Regions from separate parts of the Homo sapiens genome. Here region 2 is linked to region 1. Evidence: fine-mapped expression QTL. Tissue or cell type: monocytes after triphosphate RNA. Region 1 holds a variant in brackets; the other region holds the start of a gene. All regions are shown on one strand. Distances are between the middles of the regions.

Region 1 (8,107 bases):
AAACAATGTCAGGGCCACTTTTATAGCAGGAGATTCTGTACTTTCTTTTGCTGCCTGTAACTGTTCCCTGCAGGGGCAGCATGGCTTTTGATAACCCTTAGGAACCAGGAGGGCTTCAGGGAGGTCCCACTGATTGACAGCACAATTACTTAATATCAGTGTTTCTCAACCCTGGCTGCTGATTAGAATCATCTGGGGCTGGGCTCGGTGGCTGACGCCTGTAATCCCAGCACTGTGGGAGGCTGAGGTGGGTGGATCACCTGAGGTCAGGAGTTCAAGACCAGCCTGGCCAATATGGTGAAACCCCATCTCTACTAAAAATACAAAAATTAGCCGGGCATGGTGGTGCACACCTGTAGTCCCAGCTGCTCCAGAGCCTGAGGCAGGAGAATCGCTTGAACCCAGGAGCTGGAGGTTGCAATGAGCCAAGATCACATCACTGCACTACAGCCTGGGTGACAGAGTGAGACTCTGTCTCACCAAAAAAAAAAAAAAAAAAAAAAAAAAAAAAAATCACTGGGAAGGTTTTAGGAACTAGGGATGCTCAACTCTACCTCCAGAAATTTTGATATAATTGGTCTGTGTTAAGGCCCAGACACTGGTATATTTTAAAAGCATCCCAGATGATTGTAACATACAGCTAGGGTTGAGAATCACTGCCCATTTATATATTTGGTACCTGGCCCTGTTTTCCAAAAAACCCTAACCTTCCCGGCCTTCATTAGTTCATCCTTTTTTCCTACTGCTTCCAGCTTTTCCCCATCTCACTGTTTTGCTAATTCTAGCCTCTTTGCTCCGTGGAAATCTCATTTTTTTTCTCTTTCTCCCTCTTTTTTGGGGGGAGGAGGGAAAGTAGTTAATTTCCTTGCATAGCCACTTTTTTTCTTGCCCTCTACACAGCTAGTTAATATTACAACATGGGGAAATGATGTCTAATGCACAAATCATTGTTTGGTTAAGGTACCAGCTTTTCAGCCTTTTTAGTTCAGCATCTGGGAATAAAGCATCTGCTGGTTAAGGTATAGAACAAATAATACCCACTTTTCACTCTCAGGCTTAGTGGTATGCCTTCACTGATTAAGTATAAATGGCACTCTTCCAAAGCTGTACTTATAAACTTAAATGTGCAAACAATTCACCTAAGAATCTTGTTAAAAAATACAGATTCTCATTCAGTAGGGTCTGGGATTCTGTGTTTCTTTTTTCTTTTTTTTTTTTTCTTTTAAGACTCGCTCTGTAGCTGAGGCTGGAGTGCAGTGGCGCGATCTCAGTTCAAAATAAAATAAAAACAAACTTTTTTTTTAATAGCCTCACTAAAATGTTCAATTGAGTAACAGTTTCAAGTGTCATACTTAGGAGAACTGCCTGGCACCTCCAGGCAGGTAAAATGGATTGCTATTTTGACTTTTTTCATTTTAAAAAAGCATTTATTAGCTGAAGCCTAAAACAATTGGAAAGCTGTTTAAATTAGATTGAAAACAGAACTAATGAAGTAGTGGAAAGCTCAAGAGGTTAAATGTTTCTTTAGGCTGGGTACGTGGCTCACGCCTGTAATCCTAGCACTTTGGGAGATTGAGGCGGGTGGATCACCTGAGGTCAGGAGTTCGAGACCAGCCTGGCCAACATGGCGAAATGCCGTCTCTACTAAAAATATAAAAATTAGCTGGGCGTGGTGGATATGCCTGTAATCCCAGCTACTCGGGAGGCTGAGGCAGGAGAATCACTTGAACCTGGGAGGCCGAGGTTGCAGTGAGCTGAGATCCCGCCATTGTACTCCAGCCTGGGTGACAGAAACTCTGTCTCAAAAAAATAAAAATAAAAAAGTAAAAAACATAAAATTTTTTTTAGAACTCTGTTTTGTTAGGAAATAAACTACTCTGGAGCAAAGAGGCTTTCACTCTACTGGATGCCTATAGCATTATACTCTTAGAGCTGGAATGAAACTGAGAGTATCAAAGGTCCAACTCTCATTTTACAGTAAGAAACAGGCCTGCCCAGATGATTTCTTTCTCAGGCTCAGAGCTAACTAGAAGTAGATACTTGTTCAAGTAAGTGGCATGTACAGAAGTTCAATTAGGTTTGAAGTGTTTAGTCTACTACCAAGAAGTAGCTTGCATGTTGGGAAAATCTGGCTTATTGTTTACTACAAAATAGTTTATCAGTCATCTGATTTAATATGTGATTCTGAAAATTGAAGTGATGAGAACTTACTTCCATATGTCATTGACTTCAGTGGGTGCAAATTCTTTAGACTCCAGTTGAATCATAGCAAAACCACCAATTGCATACAGAGATCCAGCCAGGCTGACCAAACTGATGGAGCTTCTTTCTTGGGGAAATTCGGTCATTACATCCCATCTAGGTATCATTAAAAATATAGTCAATGTAAAACTTAAAGAAATGCCAGATGTACTTACTGAATAATTATAGGAAATAATAATTTAAAAATTCAAGTAGTGGCCAGGCAGCCAGGCGCGGTGGCTCATGCCGGTAATCCCAGCACTTTGGGAGGCTGAGACGGGTAGATCACCTGAGGTCAGGAGTTTGAGACCAGCCTGACCAACATGGTGAAACCCCACCTCTACCAAAAATACAAAAAATTAGCCAGGCACGGTGGCGCGCACTTGTAATTTCAGCTATTTGGGAGGCTGTGGCAGGAGAATCACTTGAACCTGGGAGGCGGAGGTTGCAGTGAGCTGAGATTGTGCAACTGTACTCCAGCCTGGGCAACAGAGCGAGACTCCATCTAAATAAAAAATAAATATTCAAGTAGCGGCTGGGTTCGGTGGCTCATGCCCGTAATCCCAGCACTTTGGGAGACTGAGGCAGGAGGATTGCTTGAGCCCAAGGAGTATGCGACCAGCCTGGGCAACAAAATGGACTGCCTCCACACACACACACACACATACACACACACACACACACACACACACACACACACACTGAGGCAGGAGGATAGCTTGAGCCCAAGGAGTATGAGACCAGCCTGGGCAACAAAATGGACTGTCTACACACACACACACACACACACACACACACACACACACACACACACA[CACACACACAG/G]AGCTAGGCCTGGTGGTATGTCCCTATAGTCCCAGCTACTTGGGAGGATCTCTTGAGCCCTTGAGGTCAAGGCTGCGGTGAGCTATGATCGCATTGCTGCATTCCAGCCTGGGTGATAGAGCAAAACCCTGTCTTTAAGGGGGGAAAAAAAAATTCAAGGAGCACAGGCATCTAAAAGTAAATGACTAAGTTTGCTACTAGAAAATATTTGAAAGATGTAACTTCATTAAATATAAAGCCTTCAATATGGCAACCCTAAGGCCGGGCACGGTGGCTCATGCCTGTAATCCTAGCACTTTGGCAGGCCTAGGTGGGTGGATCACCTGAGGTAAGGAGTTCGAGACCAGCCTGACCAACATGGTGAAACCCCATCTCTACTAAAAATACAAAAAATTAGCCGATTTTTTTCTAATTATAAAAATAATATATGTACATTATAGAAAATCTGTACTCCAGCCTGTGTGACACAGTGAGACCCTGTCTCAAAAAAAAAAAAAAAAAGTTTGAGAAAATCTGGAAAGTACAGAAAGGTATACAAGAGAGCAGATATCTCCATAATCATACCTTACAGACATAATCACAAGCAACAATTTGGTGTAATTTTGTCATCTTTTTAAAAAGCATGTACATTTAAGCTTCCATACATATAAATGAAACTAAGAAGATATTTACAATTTTTGTGTGTTGCTTCTTAACTTACATCATGAGTGTTTACCCACATTACAGTCTTCGAAAACATTATTTTTAATGATAATTTAAATAGTGTTCCACAAAAGTTCCTTGTAATTTTCAGATACTAAAGTCTGTTTTGTAGTCAGGCATACATGTTTCTAAAAAAAGTAATAATATTTCTCTTTTTTCTTCATTGCTAAACTAGGAATATAAAAGGTACATACTCATCCAGATGTGTGAGCTCAAAAATTTTAAAAAGACCAATTTTATATGAAGAATAGCTGTCAAATATCTTTTCACATTAAGTCAATAAAAGCTTAAAAATGAAATTTTTAATAAAATTATAAACAGCGTAAAGGAATGAAAACTTGGGAAGCATTCATACTTTACAGATATCAATCATTAACAAGTTAAGTGAAGATCTTTTCATAAAGAAACTACATTTAAAATCAAATGATTCCACAGAGACATGTATATCCATCTACACAGACAATTATTCAGGGCCAGGTGTGCTGGCTCACACCTATAATCCTAGCACTTTGGGAGGCCACCGTGAGAGGATCATTTGAGGCCAGGAGTTAGAGACCAGTATGGACAACATAGTGAGACCCTGTCTGTACCAAAAACAAAAACAAAAACAAAAATTAGCTGGGCATAGTGGTAGTCCTAGCTACTCAGGAGCCTGAGGTGAGAGGATCACCTGAGCCCAGGAGTTTGAGGCAGCAGTGAGCTATGATTGTGCCACTGCACTCCAGCCTGGGTGACAGAGCCAGACCTTGTCTCTTAAAAATAATCATAATTATTCACAAGTATTACCTTTGCATTTCTAAATTCACAAAGTTAATAACAAGGACAAATAGAGCATGACAACACTGACTTAAGGGTCATGTGTTCCAGATTACAGACATATAATGCATCAGAATGTTAGACAAGATTTACATCCAGTAACAACAAAAGAAACCCAGATGAAAATACTTCCTTTGTAATCTGTGGCTCTGTACCCTCCCCTCCCCACATCCTAATTAGAAAGATAACTTTTTATCCAAAGTTAACAATTAAAATGTATAGTTGTTCACATGCTATATACTAAGATGTGGCAACTCACTTATTTGTTGTAAGGTCAAAAGCTTCAACTGAAGCTGAAAGACCATCTTCAGTGACACCTCCTGCAATCACAATTTTGCCTTTATGGACTGCTACTCCAAACATGGAACGAGGAATTTTCATTGGAGCCAGATCTTTCCAATCTCCTTTTTTGGGGTTGAAGATAAACACCCTGTTTGTACATTTTCTGTAAACAGAAAAACAAATGTTCCTTTTAGAACCTTTTTTTGACAGCACCTTCACTAATAATTTGGCTTTGCTTGTCATGAAAAATATATAGTAGGATCAGAAAACTCCAAAGAATTCTTAATTTGAACATATGCCACTAAACAAAGGACAAGCCCAAATGTGGGGACCAAAACTATAACTTAATTTTACTGTTGGAAGATAGGGTACCTTTACTTCTGGATAGCTGCTTAGAACCCCAGGCACAGCTGATTTTAATCGTATCTACTAAATTCAATTGAAGTTTTTTTACTCTATTTGAGTAAAAAATAAAATCATAAACCTTTTATTGCACCTCAATAACAAATGGTAAGTTTATTTATTATCTGAATATCCTAGGAACGAATCAGTTAACTTAAAGAATAATTAGGTGCAAATATACCTACTTTAAATTTTATATGATAGATCATTTTATTTTATATTAGCACTAACATACCAGTGCATTTTAAGAAATCTGGGACTATGGATTAGACAACAAATCATCTGAGCTGATGAATCATGACAACAGTTTTACATGCTAAATGCTACCAGAAAGACCTGGACTCATCTGAATTATTATTCACTCTGCCACCCAGGCTGGAGTGCAGTGGTGCGATCTTGGCTCACCGCAACCTCCGCATCCAGGGCTCAAGTGATCCTCCCATCTCAACTTCCCAGGTAGCTGGGAACACAGGCATGTGCCATCACACCCAGCTAGTTTTTTGTATGCTTGGTAGAGACAGGGTTTCGCCATGTTGGCCAGGCTGGTCTCGAATTCCTGAGCTCAAGTGATCCTCCAGCCTCAGCCTCCCAAAGTGCTGGGATTACAGGTGTGAGCCACCATGCCCCGCCCTTAGTATGTTTTTTATGGTTCCTTGAAGTTATCTATAATTTGATGGGAGTTCAGAATTTCAAATAATAATTGATTAACTGGATATATTTGGTGATGAAAAACACCTTAACTTTTTTGTGAGGACAATTTTTTTCTTAATTGTGTAAAAGACCAGTTATCTGGAGTAGAAGCATTTCCTCTAATATTTGACTATTGGTATCATTTGAACACTTCTTGATAAGAACATTATCCAAAATCACGTTCTTCAAATTCATTAGTGGGAACTGGTGCAATTCAGCACTTACTTTTATTTATTTATTTATTTCTGGAGACGGAGTTTCGCTCTTGTTGCCCAGGCTGGAGTGCAGTGGCGCGATATCAGCTCACTGTCTCCCGGGTTCAAGTGATTCTCCTGCCTCAGCCTCCCTAGTAGCTGGGATTACAGGCAAACGGCACCACGCCCGGTTAATTTTGTATTTTTAGTAGAGACGGGGTTTCTCCACGTTGGACAGGCTGGTCTCAAATTCCCGACCTCAGGTGATCCACCTGCCTCGGTCTCCCAAAGTGCTGGGATTACAGGCATGAGCCACTGCACCCAGCCCAGCACTTACTTTTAGATAATGACTCATTTCAAAGTTCTTGACTTTGACATTTGTCAAGCAGTGTTGTGTTAGTTAATCATATTCTCAAGATTGATATATTCCTACTGACAAGAACTGTATGCTTCTTACTGACATATCAATTTCCTAGTTACTAATGCTGCTTGAAGGAAACAATTTAAATCATTTGGCAGGGTTCCTGTGTTTCCAAAGTCAGAATGCTCTTTAGTAGTGATTTTCCATTCAGTTTACTCAGGAAAAATGCCCAAAATAAGATCTGGCACCAGGTAAGCATATAATATACCTTCCTTTAAATTTGATAGGAATAGCTGGGATTAGGGAGGATATAAAAATTTTAGAATATGTTATCTTTGAATACAGGTAGATGTTTAAAAACCATTGCTTTTTAAAATCGCCTTTTCTGTGCTATATTTACCATTTAAATTGACTAATACCCAATAATCATTAACTCCAGAATAGAGTTCTTGACATCTAACACATTTCTATATTTTACTCTCCTTTCCTGCTTTGCCCTTACAATTCTAAATTTTGGCTCCCTTTTCAGGGTTGGACATCACTATTAATTCAATGGCCTGGGCAAATGATGACAAGCCAAATCAGGCAGATTTTTCAGGGGCAGAATATTAGTTCTCACCATCTAAACTGAAAATGCTTATTTTACTAGACAGGTTATACTGGTTTGACTGTCTCTGAAGCATTCGGAGCTCACTTCTCCTCTCTCTGGGTTATAACATCTCTTTCCTGATTACAGGTTCCTTAAGAATTGACTGGAAATCAAGTTAGGTTTATATATGAAACCTCATCCTGGTTTTCTCACAAGATACTGGGTGCTACTGGGAGCTCAGTTTTGAACAGTTGGAAGCCATTTTGAATATTACCTCTGTCAGGGAGTAAATATGTGGAAGAACACTGCTGAGGAAATAATTGCCTTAATTTTTTGTTTTTATTTTGTCTTTTTTACTTCCCTCTTTTCAATCACCACGCTTTTCTTTCAAACTGACCTATCTAAAGTCCCTCTTATGAATGTAAAGTACAAATCCATGATATTTTTTATGCACAGTTGTCTTAGAAGATATATTTTAAATACTACATTAAAGATACCTTTCAATTTTTATCTACTTATGGCTAAATGAATAAGAAAACCCATTGGTTTTAATGTAGTAAAATACAATTATAAATCAGTGAAATACAGGACTTGATTATGCTCCTAGATACTGCCTGGACTGTAAGGATGCTTATGATTGGGGTATTAGGCTCATTCCTAGCAGTATGCTGAGTATCTACATGTTTACTTCAGCGACTTGAAATTTTAAGATTTTCCCTCCACAATATGATAGGTGAGAACCATGTCCCATTTTAGTGTGCAGATCCAAAGGAAAAGAGGAAGAGACCGGGCGTGGTGGCTCACACCTATAATCCTAGCACTTTGGGAGGCTGAAGCGGGCAGATCACCTGAGGTCGGGAGTTCAAGACCAGCCTGACCAACATGGAGAAACCCTGTCTCTACTAAAAATACAAAATTAGCCAGGCGTGGTGGAGCATGCCTGTAATCCCAGCTACTCAGGAGGCTGAGACAGGAGAATCGCTTGAACCCAGGAGGCGGCGGTTG
Region 2 (8,107 bases), 64 kb before region 1:
TAAAAGCAAAAAGGTCTGGGCACGGTGGCTCACGCCTGTAATACTAGCACTTTGGGAGGCCAAGGTGGGCAGATCATGAGGTCAGGAGTTTGGGACCAGCCTAACCAACATGGTGAAACCCCATCTCTATAAAAAATACAAAAATCAGCTGGGTGTGGTGGCACATGCCTGTAATCCCAGCTACTCAGGAAGCTGAGGCAGAAGAATTGCTTGAACCCGGGAGGCGGAGGTTGCAGTGAGCCGAGATCACGCCACTGCACTCCAGTATGGGCAAGACAGCGAGACTCTGTCTCAAAAAAAAAAGCAAAAGTCAGGCTGGGCACAGTGCACAGTGGCTCACGCCTGTAATCCCAGCACTTTGGGAGGCGGAGGCGGATGGATTACTTGAGGTCAGGAATTTGAGACCAGCGTAGCCAACATGGTGAAACCCCTTCTCTACTAAAAATATAAAAATTACCCGGTGTGGTGGCAGGCACCTGTACTCCCAGCTACTAGGGAGGCTGAGGCGTGAGAATCCCTTGAGCTCAGGAGGTGGAGGTTGCAGTGAGCTGAGATCATGCCACTGCACTCCAGCCTGGGCGACAGAGCAAGACTCTGTCTGAAAAAAATAAATAAATAAAAGCAAAAAGCATGCAATGCCACAATGCAACAGAAAGACTTGCAACAAACTCTTCAGGTCACTTGCATTAATTATCTATGTATTCCTTCATGACATCTTAGTACACTGGGATTCTAAAAATAGACAACATGTTATAATTATGTTTAAATACTCTATTTATAAACTAATAGGAAGGAAAAAAGCCTAACTAAAGGGGCAACTACTATTTAAAGAATTAACCCCAGATAGTGTCCTAACAGAAGTACTTTATTATGAATGGCTTCCACTTTCCCTTTGTATAAAGAAGAGGATGCTGCCTCACAGAAAATCTAATTTAAGGCAAAATATCAAAAATATGTAGAAGTCACCAATACTGCAAGACCACAATAATAAGCACCACAGTAAATCGACTATATGGTTAAAAATAAATGTAATGAACACTCTTCACCCATAAAGGAACCACTGAGTTAATGAAAGCCAACTTCACACACAATTTTAACAAAGCTGAGTATTTAATTTTCAAGCCCACAGTTGATGGAAGGTGGAGATCAAAATGTCATTTTGCAGGTAGGTGAAGAAACTGAAGCTCAGAAAGATAATTGGGCCAGAAAGTCCAAATTTTTCTAACCTAAGAAGTTTACATACTTATACACTCCTGACAGCAGGAGCACTCCTGACAACTGACTGCCTAGAAAAGCCTTAAAAAGGAAACCAACAATTCAAATGCGCAGAATCCTACTACAAGACCCTATAGGATCTCAGAGCATCAATAATTCTGAATCATAAAGAAATAGTCAAACAATGTACAATGAACTCTTGTTTAAGACACAGAACCATGTAATTTGTTACAGAAATAATTCTGTCCCAACTCGTTAACATAAAAAAAAGGGGAGTGCTAAAACGGGTAAATTTTCAGGATATATTAAAAACAGGAGAGAAGCAGCCATTCTAAATGTATCTTTTCTGGATTTTATAGCACGATTTCAAAATTTATAAAATGTTCACCCCCCCACCCGTCATTGTTACAAAGTAGCAATTACCGGCCATCCTGTTACCAAATGGGAATACACAAAGACAAAAACGTGTGTGTGACCGACACACACACACACTCACTCTTTTTTCCTGGTTTTAACTACTGAAAGTTAATATCAGGCCCCCCTAATTTCTAAAACATCTAATTGTTCTTTGGACAACTATGTTAGTACCAAACTATAAAAGCAAATACTTTTGTATTTGTGTTCACTACTGCAAAATGTTGGTTACACACAGAAAGGGCTATCGTGGAAAGAAATTAAAATCAATGCACAAAATGGTGCTTTTATAGCATTTCCAAAACGATTGTGCATACTCCTTGCCAGCACATCTAGACTTTGCTCCTTAAGACTAAACATGAGCTGGCCGTGCGCGGTGGCTCTCGCCTGTAATCCCAGCACTTTGGGAGGCCGAGGTGGGCGGATCACGAGGTCAGGAGATCGACCATCCTGGCTAACACGGTGAAAACCCGTCTCTACTAAAAACACAAAAAATTAGCCGGGCATGGTGGCACGTGCCTGTAGTCCCAGCTACTTGGGAGGCTGAGGCAGAAGAATCACTTGAACCCAGGAGGCGGAGGTTGCAGTGAGCCAAGATCGCGCCACTGCATTCCAGCCTAGGCGACAGAGCGAGACTCCGTCTCAAAAAAAAAGACTAACCAAGAACCAAATTAGCATACTTCCCCTTCAGGCATACTGAGCCCCGAAATCATCATCTTCCTCCTAAAGAGTAATTATCTCCTCCTAAAAGGCCTGCGCAGCTCACAGCTCCTCCGAAACACGGGGGAACTTCGCGAGAGCTCAAGACCCTGGACTTGAGTTTTAGAAAAATGCTTAACAAAGTGGCCTCTGCCACTTAACTGCACGACAGCCACTGTGCTGTGAGAGGAAAAGGTCGAAAGAGGAGGAAAGCTAGTCTTCAATTTTAATCCCTGTGATTCAGGCTCTTCGCCCGTCACTCTCCAACCCTAGCCTGACAGGACGTCAGGCTGTCTCCCCCTTCCCCACCAGTCCCGCCACCTACCCCGCAACAGTGCTGAGTCTTAGGATTTTGAAGCTTTAAAAATCAACCCGGCTCCCTAGAGTTCAGGCCGCAGTCGCTGCCGCCATGTTACAGCTTGTGCGGCAAAATGCGTCAGTGAGGGAGGTGTGCGCCTGAGTGGGGAGGGCGGGGGCTGGCAGAGGAAGGACCGTCCCCAGGCCCCGGGGCTCGACTGCAAGCCTTCTCCTTCTGCAACAGCGGCAAAGGCACTGCTGCGGTCCTCAGGGACTTCCTCTGGGCCCAAGCAGCCCCGATACCTCGAGGGAAAGACGGTAAACCCAACCCGGTCAGCCGCGCCGGCTCCGCCCCTCTTCCCAGGCCCTTCCCGCTTTCGTACGCAGGGACTGCTGAAATGACGCCGCCAGAACAACTTGAGCCTCATACCACTTACCTGCACCGGTAGAGTTTTCCTCTTCTCTGGGTCCGGTCCTTTGAAGCGCTTCAAATCTACCGCCGCCAGAAAAGGCGCTAAAGCCCGCTAACCGCCTCCCTCCCCCACAACTCAGTCCTGGCATGGAGAGACAGCGTCGCACCGGAAGCGCGTCAGGAGTGGGTTGTCAGCATCGGCCAGCGTTCACCTGCTTGCGTCACCACGCCCTCCTAGGACTTCTAGGATTTTGGTGCCTTTTAAATTCCTAGTTTATAGGTGGCCTAATGCTTTGTGGATGCGTTGACTGGGAACGCTTGTAACCGTTAAAATGCCATATCCTTTGTGAAGTAAAGTGCCTCATTTAATAAACATTTATTGATCTTACGCTAGGTTATCAGAAAGGAAGGCCTACCTTCATGGAGCTTCCAGTTAAGCTTCCACTTAACGCTAGGATATAAGTTCTAAAAACGCAGTAATGAGCAAAGTGTTATTTGAGGAAAGAGGAAGAAATTACAAAGAGCTTTGATGTTCTTTGTTGTTTTACAGATAAAGAAATTGAGGCTCAGGGAAGATAAACGCCTCCTCCTCAAACACACTGTTCTTGAATGCCAAAGCAAGTCTTTTGATGCCAAATCTAGTGCCTTCTAGAGAAAATATGGCATATATTATTTAATTATTTTAAGGGGCAAGGGTCCCCGGATTATGTTAGAAATAAATAACCATTGCTGTTTGGGCGGGGGGGTGGGGGGGGATGGGCAGTGATTCTGGTAGGGATGTGGGGTGTGTTTTAAAGGAACTAGCTAACTAGAGGACTTAAATTGTTCTGTCGTTTAAAGGCAACGTAAATTATGATCATTTAAATTTTTCACTCACTTGCATCAGGTAAATTAATTATCAACAACAGTTAGGCATGTGGTGGTGCTTCTAAGGGGCGTGACCAGTTTTACACAGCAGTAAAACAGAGGACATTTCTGCCTCTCCACCCCCACCTCTTTTAAGTCATTGCCCTTTATTGCAGGAGAGCAGCAGCATATTCATCTTTAGATAGTTCAGAGATTAAACGGATTTACACTTCGCTGTGTGTGGAGGGGACAATTCTGCAATACCTTAAAACAGGGGTCCCCAACCCCTGGGCCACAGACTGGCCTGGCTAATTTTTTGTATTTTTAGTAGAGACAGGGTTTCTCCATGTAGGTCAGGCTGGTCTCAAACTCCCAACCTCAGGTGATCCGTCCTCCTTGGCCTCCCAAAGTGCCGGGATTACAGGTGTGAGCCACCACGCCCGGCCAACGCTTTTCGAAAGAAGACATACTTGCAGCCAACAATCATAATGAAAAAGCTCAACACCACCAATCATCAGAAAAATGCAAATCAAAACCGCAGTGAGATACTATCTCATACCAGTCAGAATGGCTATTATTAAAAAGTCAAAAAATAACAGGTGCTGGTGAGGTTGTGGAGAAAAAGGAACATTTTACAGTGCTGGTGGGAGTTTAAATGAATTCAACTATTGTGGAAGACAGCGTGGCGATTCCTCAAAGACCTAGAGGCAGAAATACCATTTGACCCAGCAATCACATTACTGGGTATATACCCAAAGGAATATAAGTTGTTCTGTTATAAAGACATACACATATGTATGTTCATTGCCACACTATTCACAATAGCGAAGACATGGAGTCAACCTAAATGTCCATCAATGGTAGACTTGATAAAGAAAATGTGGTACATATACTCCATGGAATACTATGCAGCCATGAAAAAGAATGATCTCATGCCCTTCGCAGGAACATGGATGGAGCTGGAGACCATTATCCTTAGCAAACTAATGCAGAAACAGAAAACCAAGTACCACATGTTCTCACTTATAAGTGGGAGCTAAATGATGAGAACACATGAAGACATAGAGGGGCACAATACACACTGGGGCCTATCAGAGTGTAGACAGTGGGAGGAGGGAGAGGATCAGGAAAAATAACTAATGGGTCCTAGACTTAATACCTAGGTGATGAAATATTCTGTACAACAAACCCCCATTACACAAGTTTACCTCTGTAACAAACCTGCATATGTACCCCACAACTTAAATAAAAATAAATAAATGGAAGGATACTGTATGTATAGTGTATATAATAAACAACATTTGTTATCCTATAGTTTCCTTATATATATTTATATATATATTTATTATCCTAGTGTGTGTATGTATACATATACTATATATGTGTATATATACATATATATACACACACATATATGTACGTGTGTGTGTATATATGTGTATATATATATAAATAAGTGTTGTTTAAGCCACTAAGTTTTGGGATGATTTTGTCACACAGCAAGGGATAACTGACACAGAGAAGAAAGAATAGACTGATTATCACGGAACTTTTCACTTGTCTAATTCTACATAGCTTCATTTTTTTTCTTTTTTTCTAGAGACAGGGTCTCATTATGTTGCTCAGGATGGACTTGAACTCCTGGAGTCAAGCGATTCTCCCACCTTAGTCTCCAGAGTAGCTGGGACTACAGGTATGTACCACCTCACCCAGTGATGACCTCACATCATAAGGATCTGAGTTTCTGCCAGCCCGAATCATCAAATGCCAGAGAAGTATTTTACTAACATAGCAGTAACAGCTCCAAAATTTGTACTCCCACTTACATAGTAGGGGGTGTCACTGGAAAGTGTCTGTTCTGCTAAGAACTACATTTTTTAGCTGTCCCCTTGTATCTTAGTGGCTTGAAACAACATTTATTATCCCATAGGTAAGGATTTAAAAATGCTTTTTGGGGCCGGGCGTGGTGGCTCATGCCTGTAATCCCAGCACTTTTGGAGGCTGAGATGGGTGGATCACGAGGTCAGGAGTTTGAGACCAGCCTGGCCAAGATGGTGAAACTCCAGCTCTACTAAAAATACAAAAATTAGCCGGGCACAGTGGTGGGCACCTGTAATCCCAGCTACTTGGGAGGCTGAGGCAGGAGAATCGCTTGAACCCAGGAGGTGGAGGTTGCAGTGAGCCAAGATTGCACCACTGCACTCTAGCCTGGGTGACAGAGCAAGACTCCATGTCAAAATAAATAAAATAAAATAAAATAAAATAAAATATAAAATAAATAAAATATACTTTGTGTCAGTGGAAAGTGAGCGGACATCCAGGCCAAAATGTTTGTGAAGTGCTATGCCTTCTCCATTCCCTCTCTTCCTGTTTTGTCAGCTGAACCAGAATGTTTTAAGGCCCTGGGGAAGGGCCTATGGAAAAGGTCTACTTCCCTGAATCTCTGTTTGGAGAAAAGTCCTCTTCCACTGACTAGGGATATCCACATTGGAATGTGGTGTGACTGATAAATCAAATTATGTGGGTTAAATCACTGATGTTTGGCTTTATTTGTTACACCAGATACCACTACCAATCTAATAGGCTGTGAGCCTAAAGTATTAGATTTGGCCTAGCCTGGATCACTTCAGTCATTGTAGTATGAGGAATGGGATTTGATACCAGAAGAAGGGAGGTAGGTTGGCTGGGCTACTGCAATTAACCTTTACTTTACCTGTGACTTTTGCTTTAGAGTAATAAAACTTTTTGTTTCTACCCATAGATCAACAACAAACTGTTGTTTGTTCTATTAATAGTTGTCTACTGTATCACCAATAATATGTTTAGTTTTTTTTAAAAGCATGCCATTCTCTGATTGTGATGGATCAAGGAAAAAACCAGACACTTCCATAATCTTGTTTCAGACAAAAACAAGAACATTGTACAAACTGTAAAAACGACCAAACATCGGCCGGGCATGGTGGCTCACGCCTGTAATCCCAGCACTTTGGGAGGCCAAGTCAGGCGGATCACAAGGTCAGAAGATCAAGACCATCCTGGCTAACACGGTGAAACCCTGTCTCTACTAAAAATACAAAAAATTAGCCAGGTGTGGTGGCAGGCGCCTGTAGTCCCAGCTACTTGGGAGGCTGAGGCAGGAGAATGGTGTGAACCTGGGAGGTGGAGCTTGCATTGAGCTGAGATCGTGCCATTGCACTCCAGCCTGGGTGACAGAGTGAGACTCTGTCTCAAAAAAAAAAAAAAAAAAAAGACGAAATATCCATCTATCCTTGCTAATATGAATGGCTGCTGTTTCTTTATCAATTACAGCTTTAACCTCAGTTCATTCTTCCTGCCTTCTAGATCAAGATTATTAGAATAGAATTACCCTTGCTTACTCACAGCATCCAATCTAGAGAAACCACTCTAAAACTCTCCAAAATCACTTAACACAAGGCTAAAAAAAATTTTTTTTTTCGAGACAGAGTCTCGCTCTGTTGCCCAGGCTGGAGTGCAGTGGTGCAATCTTGGCTTATTGCAACCTCTGCCTCCCGGATTCAAGTGATCCTCCCACCTCAGCCTCCCAAGTAGCTGGGATTATAAGCATGTGCCTCCATGCTTGGCTAATTTTCGTATTTTTAGTAGAGATGGGGTTTCACCATGTTGGCCAAGGTGGTCTCGAACTCCTGACCTCAAGTGATCTGCCTGTCTCAGTCTCCCAAAGTGCTGGGATTATGGGTGTAAGCCACTGTGCCTGGCCAAGACTATATGCTATAATGACAACTTTCTAACACCTTCTTATGGAGACACCTCTTAGGGTACAGCCTACTTCATTGCAACCAGTCAATAAACCCAACTTTGTTTAACTATATGTGTTCCTGGTGTTTTTTGACTGGAAGGCAATGACTTGGATCATGCTGTTTCATCTCTATGTTTTTCTTACATTTGTTTGAAAACCCCTTCTATGCTGTGCATTCAGATTACCTTCATCTCAGATCTATTATCAGTTGATCTAGTTCCAAGCAACCCAAATCAGTGCTGTATAAAATTATTGTCTGGGATTAGTGGTTGTCTAAAGTATTGGAGGACAGGAGGGGGTGAGGGAGACATGGGGAGTGACTGCTAATGGTTACAGGGTTTCTTTTTGGAGTTATGAAAATGTTCTAAATGTGAGTGATAGCTTCTCAACTCTGTGAATATACTAAAAAGCCATTGAATTGTACACTTTAAATGGGTGAATTTTAT

Direction of the effects. Positions count from the first base shown, and alleles are read on the strand shown. Sizes are in standard deviations (SD) of each study's normalised expression.
For the expression in monocytes after triphosphate RNA of the gene that starts at base 3,202 in region 2, allele G in region 1 goes with a higher level than allele CACACACACAG (large effect, 0.94 SD a copy in Kim-Hellmuth 2017).

Evidence for each region. PIP is the estimated chance that this variant, and not a neighbour inherited with it, causes the effect.
Region 2: it holds the start of PPIG, and the variant in region 1 is fine-mapped to the expression of PPIG in monocytes after triphosphate RNA (Kim-Hellmuth 2017, PIP 0.95).

Annotation. Positions count from the first base shown.
Region 1 is chr2:169,515,112-169,523,218 of GRCh38, reverse strand. KLHL41 (kelch like family member 41) reads right to left here. Exons shown (of 6, transcript NM_006063.3): 4 at 4,844-5,029; 5 at 2,212-2,358. Among named protein-coding and RNA genes, the nearest start is that of KLHL41, 9.5 kb to the right of the region's middle. The variant CACACACACAG/G (reference allele first, on the strand shown) is at 3,057.
Region 2 is chr2:169,579,446-169,587,552 of GRCh38, reverse strand. PPIG (peptidylprolyl isomerase G) reads right to left here and starts at 3,202. Exons shown (of 14, transcript NM_004792.3): 1 at 3,063-3,202. RefSeq lists an enhancer at 3,237-3,286.